Homo sapiens: one gene and its partner. The protein of the gene in region 1 interacts with the protein of each later gene in a pairwise test. Each region holds a gene or a part of one and is shown on either strand. Other genes may lie near its edges.

Region 1 (2,323 bases):
CAACCATTTGTTGAAAAGACTGTCCTTTCCATAGCCTGGGCGATCCTCTTACCTCAGCCTTCCAAGTAGCTGGGACTACTGCTTTTTTCAAAAAAAAAAAAAAACTTCGTTTTAAAACTCTTATCAGTCCTGGATAAAAATGTTGCCTAAGGATTCTAAGTCCTTTGGCCCCACCTGAGACAAATGCTGAATGGAACCACTTTTCATGACCTCCACTGCTGCCTCTGAGGTCCACGTCATCGTCAGTTTTTGCCTGTTCTATTGCAGTGGCCAACTGATCTAACCACCCCATCCCTTCTCCACACAGCAGCCAGAGGTCTCTAGAACCAGGTCAGGTCAGGTCTTTGGCTACCTGCCACCCAGAGAATCGCATACCCAGATTCCTGATCACAGCTCACAGCACCCGCTCTGGTCAAAACATGGTGTCAGGTCCCTTTGCCTTTGTGGGTCCCTTTCTCTGCCTGACAGGAGTTGAGCCTCTTCACCCAGGTCTGGGCTCAGACACTGAGGCCTTCCCCACCTCCCCGCCCAAGGTAAGTGTCCAGCACAGGTGCTTGATAGCAGTGTTTTTTTTTAAACAGTAGGTTTCATCTGTTAGGTTGTAAAATCAGTTTGGTAGGTCATGGCCGACAGTTTGTTTTCAACTTTTTATTTTGAAGTAATTATAGATTCACAGGAGGTTGCATAGGAGGTTGTCTAGGGAGGTCCTGGGTACCCTTGCCCCAGCCTCCCCCAATGTTAACACCTTATACACTACAGCACAGCATCAGGACGCAGAAATTGACATTGGTACAGTCTACAGAACATACTCAGTTTCCCCAGTTACATCTGTACTCCTTTGTGTACCTAACTCTACACAATTTTAACTTCATGTATAGCCCTGTGTAACCACCAGTCAGGCTGACAGATGGTTTTCAACACCACAGGACTCCCTCGTATGAACCACCCCCTCACCATCCCTAACCTAAACCCCTGGTAACCTTTAATCTGTTTTCCATCTCTATAATTACATTATTTCACCAATGTTACATAAATGGAATCCTGCTACATGTATGTTTTCAAGATTGGCTGTTTTTGCTCTGAAGAATTTCCTTGAGTTTCATCTGAGTTGCTGTGTGTACAGCAGTTACTGAAAATGGCACTATATCACATACAGTACGGATACATATTGTTTTGTATTTCAACAATAATATGCTATATATAACAGTCTATGCCAGATAATAATGTAAAATACTTATTATTAATATGGGGTTTTATCCAAAACATTTATTTTTATTTTTAAAACATTTATTTAGAGATGGGGTCTTGCTCTGTTGCCCAGGCTGGAGTGCAGTGGCACGATCATAGCTGACTGCAACCTCAAACTCCTATCCTCAAGTGATTCTTCTGCCTCAGCCTCCCAAGTAGCTGAGATTACAGGTGTGAGCCACCACACTTAGCACCTGTCCAAAAAGTTTGAAAGATATTGCTCTTATTACAGTATTTGTTTTCTTCATACCACCACCATAAAATACCAAACTGCTTCAGAAATTACCACCATTTTATTTTTATTTATTTTGAGACAGGATATTGCTCTGTCACCCAGGTTGAAGTGCAGTGGGGCACAATCATGGCTCACTGCAGCCTCAAACTCCTGGGCTCAAACAATCCTCCTATCTCAGCCTCCGAAGTAGCTGGAACTACAAATGCACGCCACCATGCATAGCTCATTTATTTTTTGTAGAGATGGGGTCTTGTTACGTTGCCCAGGCTGGTCTCGAACTCCTGGGCTCAAGCAATCCTCCCACCTCAGCCTCCCAAAGTGCTGGGATAACAGCCGTGAGCCACCACATCCAGCCACCGTTTTAAATTCCTATTTATTGATGTTTAATGTCTGTCTTTTACCCAAACTACAACAGAAACTCTTTGAAGACAACTTGTCTGTTTCAAAACTGTGGTCTTATAAGCCTCAAACCCTGTCCAACATGTGGACACTCAGATGTTGTGAAGCAATTGACATAGAAACAAATGCAGGAACATCCTGTCCAGAGAGATTATCTGTTGATGTGGAACTTGAGTAGTGAAGGAGGAGGCAAAACATGATAGTCACACTACAGAGGCAGGACTTAATGCTTCCTAACAGAGCATGCAGCCGCACAATGCATACCTTGCTAAACAAGCAGGTGGCAGGGAGCGTGGCTGCACTGAGGGGAAGCCCCTCATGGACTGGGGTGCTGGCTGGCATGCCCTGGCTTTTGCTGCACTCTCCAGCTCTGCCCCAGGAACCTGAAGGCAGCTGCTGCAATCCCAGGCATCACATGCAGGCTGCAAACTCATTTTATTA
Region 2 (3,660 bases), on another chromosome or scaffold:
ACACCCAGCTAACTTCAAATCGACCTCTACAACACCTGCCACTTTCATTCCCCGATTAACACTTCCTGCTCTCTGCCACGATATGCAATTTCCATGTTATTATTTATCCTGTCTGCTATCTTTCTCAGTTGACTTCACACACTGTGAAGGCAACGACTTGGGAGCTGACTGACAGCCACAGTTTTCACAGACTCTACGACACTCCTGGAAACACATAGTTTCCAGGGCTGGGCATGACGGCTCGAGCCTGTAATCCCAACACTTTCGGAGGCCAAGGCAGGAGGATCACTTGAGCTCAGGAGTTGAAGACCAGCCTGGGCAACACAGGGCAATGGAGACCCAGTCTTTACAAAAAACAAACAAACAAACAAACACGAAAAAAAAAAACCCATACTTTTAAAAATAAAACTAAAATTAAAATTGAAAAAAAAAAGGAAAAACCAGTTTTTCAAGTTTCCTCACTGGTGACACTGTGGGCCAATAATTCCTTACTGCAGGGCCAGCCCAGTGCACTGCCGGATGGCGAGCAGCATCCCTGGCCTCCACCCACCAGATGCCAGGAGCACCCCCACCTCCCACCCACTCAGCTGTAACAACCAACAATGTCTCCAAACATTGTCAGATGGCCCCGGGGACAAAATCACCCCCAGTGACAACCACCAGATTAGAGTAAGGGATGGCTCCGAGAGGAAACTGGTGCCTCATTCTCAATAATACTGATCAAAACACACTGCAGGTCCAGGCGCGGTGGCTCATGCTTGTAATCCCAGCACTTTGGGAGGCCGAGGCAGGCAGATCACCTGAGGTCAGGAGCTCGACACCAGCCTGGCCAACGTGGCAAAACCCCGTCTCTACTAAAAATACAAAAATTAGCCAGGTGTGGTGGTGGATGCCTATAATCCCAGCTACTCGGGAGGCTGAGGCAGGAGAATCGCTTGAACCCAGGAGGCAGGGGTTGCAGTGAGCCGAGACTGCGCCACTGCACTCCAGTTTAGGCAACAGAGCCAGACTCCGTCTCAAAAAAAAAAAAAAAGATCAAAACACATCGCAGACCAAAAAGCAGAAACGCACACATGCAGAGGGGCGCAGTTGCCTGCCCAGGGCACACAGCCACTGAGTGGTGGGACAGGGCCCTCTGAACTCCTATGACGCACCACCTCCATGCCGGCCTGCCGGCCAAAGGAACCCTTCAACCTCTGTGGTCGGGACAGGCATTTCTGCTTTGCAAGACAAGGGGAAGGGCCTCCCACAGTGCCTCTCCCACTGTGAGCTGCACTCAACCTATGTGGATGTTCCCACTCACTGCACCCACCCACCACCACGTGTGCTGCAGGGAGAGAGCAGAAGCTCTGTAAGTCACGTCCATCACCCCAACACCTGGCGCAGAGCCTGTGGGAAAGCAGGTGCGGCACCCAGATATGTGCGAGAGGCAGACAGCGTCTTACCGGTGTCCTGGCGGAACTGGGTCCAGCTGGGGAGGTCAATAATGTAAGGGGCCAGCGAGGGGTCTGCCTGGCCCAAGGGGATGCTGTGGGCCAGGCTCCCAAGCCCAAAACGTTGGCCCTTCTGCTGGACAAACTGCTGCTCGATGAAGCTGCAGACGGTGGCACTGTAGGGGTGCCAGGTGCCCAGCCCGTCCTGCCATTCCCACACGGCCACAGCCGCGGGGCTGGTGTACACCTGCACCAGGGAAGGGCTTGGGGCCATGGCCATCTTCCCAAGGAGTCCCGCTGCTTTCCCAAACAGCTTCAGACCCCTCTGGCCTGGAGTCCCGGGGTCATTGCCCAGCGCCTCCGGCAGATCTGTGAACAGGACAGACATGAGCAGTTACCAATGCACATCAGTAGCCCTGCAGAATCAGCCTCAGCGCAGGGGAAACACGTGATGCTTTTCCACAGCTGATTTTTTTTTTTTTTTGGTTACAGGGTCTCACTCTCTCACCCAGGCTACAGTGCAGCAGTGTGATCTTGGCTCACAGCAGCCTCAAACTCCTGGTCTCAAGCAATCCTCACAACTCAGCCTCCAGAGCAGCTGGGACAATAGGCATTCACCACCACACCCAGCTCATTTTTTTACTTTTTGTAGAGATGATGTCTGTGTTGCCCAGGCTGGTCTCAAAGTCCCAGCCTCAAGGGATAGACTCGCCTCAGCCTTCCCAAGTGCTGGGATCACAGGTGTGAGCCACCGCGCCTGGTCTCACGCTTGCTTTTCTTCCCCTAACACCTTAAGGGCATCATGAATCAAGAACCTGATCCTGTCTCTTTGCTGTGGCAGCCAGGAAGAATTCAAAGTCAATCCCGCAGCCTACGTACCGCCGCACAGGCCCATGAAGAAAGAGAGCATAAATTCCGGGTGCTAGTCACCAGCCCAGCTTCTTTCTTGCTACTGATAATTCCCCTCTGACCCAACTGCTTAGTGTGTTTCATCATGCATGTATTTTTTTTTCTTTGAGATGGAGTTTCCCTCTTGTCACCCAGGCGTGTGATCTCGGCTCACTGCAACCTCCACCTCCCGGGTAGGTTCAAGTGATTCTCCTGCCTCAGCCTCCCGAGTAGCTAGGACTACAGGCATGCACCACTGCGCCCAGCTAATTTTTTGTATTTTTAGTAGAGACGGGGTTTCACCATGTTGGCCAGGCTGGTCTCAAACTCCTGACCTCAGGTGATCCACCCACCTCAGCCTCCCTATTAGCACCCACCATCCTGAAGATGAGATCCCAACATTTCTTGGAAAGGAGCAGGGTTTGGGACACCCAGGGAGCAGGGGCAGAGCTGGGAACTGCAGCACAGGTTCTAGCTCCTCATGTCTCCCAGGTGCCCTGAAGCATTGCTAACCAAAAAGGAAGCCCTAGATGGGCACCGAATCACCCCTCTCTGGCCTCTCCAAGGCTCTCTGCACCCACTCCCCGACCTGGCCCCTGCTGACCGGCCACCAGGCCCAGGGAGCTCTTCCCCACATCCCGAGCTCCACCTCCCGAGACCTTCTCCTTGCAGTCACTCCAGCCCACCCTCTTCCCTTGCGAACACTCCACGTCCTCCAGGCCCAGCTTGCATCGCTCAGGATGACCCATCACACGCCCTCTGCACCCTCCACAGCACCCACCAGAACCCTAGTAACCGCGTCCACGTGTGGCTGTGACCACAGTCCTTCTGCTCCTCCCCAGGTGGCAGCAACCCCAAGCCTGCTTCATTCACAGCTGCATCACCGGGACCCAGCAGGGGCATGCCACGTGGTGAGTGTTCTAGAATGTTCTACACACTGCTTCAGAATGACAGAGTGAATGTGGACAATGATTCCGCTCAGCACCTGGAGCTGTCTGAATAAGAAGAGGCCTGCAAATGCCCCACCTGATGGCTGCCCCCCAGGGCACCGGCTGTTGGAGTGCCGGTCCAGGGTCCAACATTTAGTAACCAACATCAAATGTACTTGTCTCTCCTAAGCTGCACAGACTGCCAAGGTGACATTTCTCCCACTTACGGACAGGAAACCAAGGCTGAAAGAGGTCAAGGGGACTGGGTGTGGTGGCTCACACCTGCAATGCCAGTGTTTAGGGAGGCTGCGACAGGAGGGTGGTTTGAGCACAGGAGTTTGAGGCCAGCCTGGGCAACATAGTGAGATCCCATCTCTGCAGAAAATTTAAAAGTTAGCCAGGTGCGGAGG

Evidence for each region. The genes of interacting proteins can lie anywhere in the genome.
Region 2: the proteins of C22orf39 (region 1) and DTX2 interact in binary tests that used the Homo sapiens proteins (3 or more experiments, as listed by UniProt).

The regions. Positions count from the first base shown.
Region 1 is NC_000022.11:19,440,253-19,442,575, forward strand, and holds the end of C22orf39 (synaptic plasticity regulator PANTS), read right to left. Parts: 3' UTR 1,443-2,323; coding exon of another isoform or gene 1,392-1,442; 3' UTR 634-1,391; downstream 1-633. UniProt on the Homo sapiens protein: Negatively regulates long-term potentiation and modulates adult synaptic plasticity. Stabilizes the interaction of RTN4 isoform A/Nogo-A with its receptors, inhibiting clustering of postsynaptic AMPA receptors at synaptic sites.
Region 2 is NC_000007.14:76,478,563-76,482,222, reverse strand, and holds part of DTX2 (probable E3 ubiquitin-protein ligase DTX2), read right to left. Parts: intron 1,803-3,660; 5' UTR 1,714-1,802; coding exon 1,446-1,713; intron 1-1,445. UniProt on the Homo sapiens protein: Regulator of Notch signaling, a signaling pathway involved in cell-cell communications that regulates a broad spectrum of cell-fate determinations.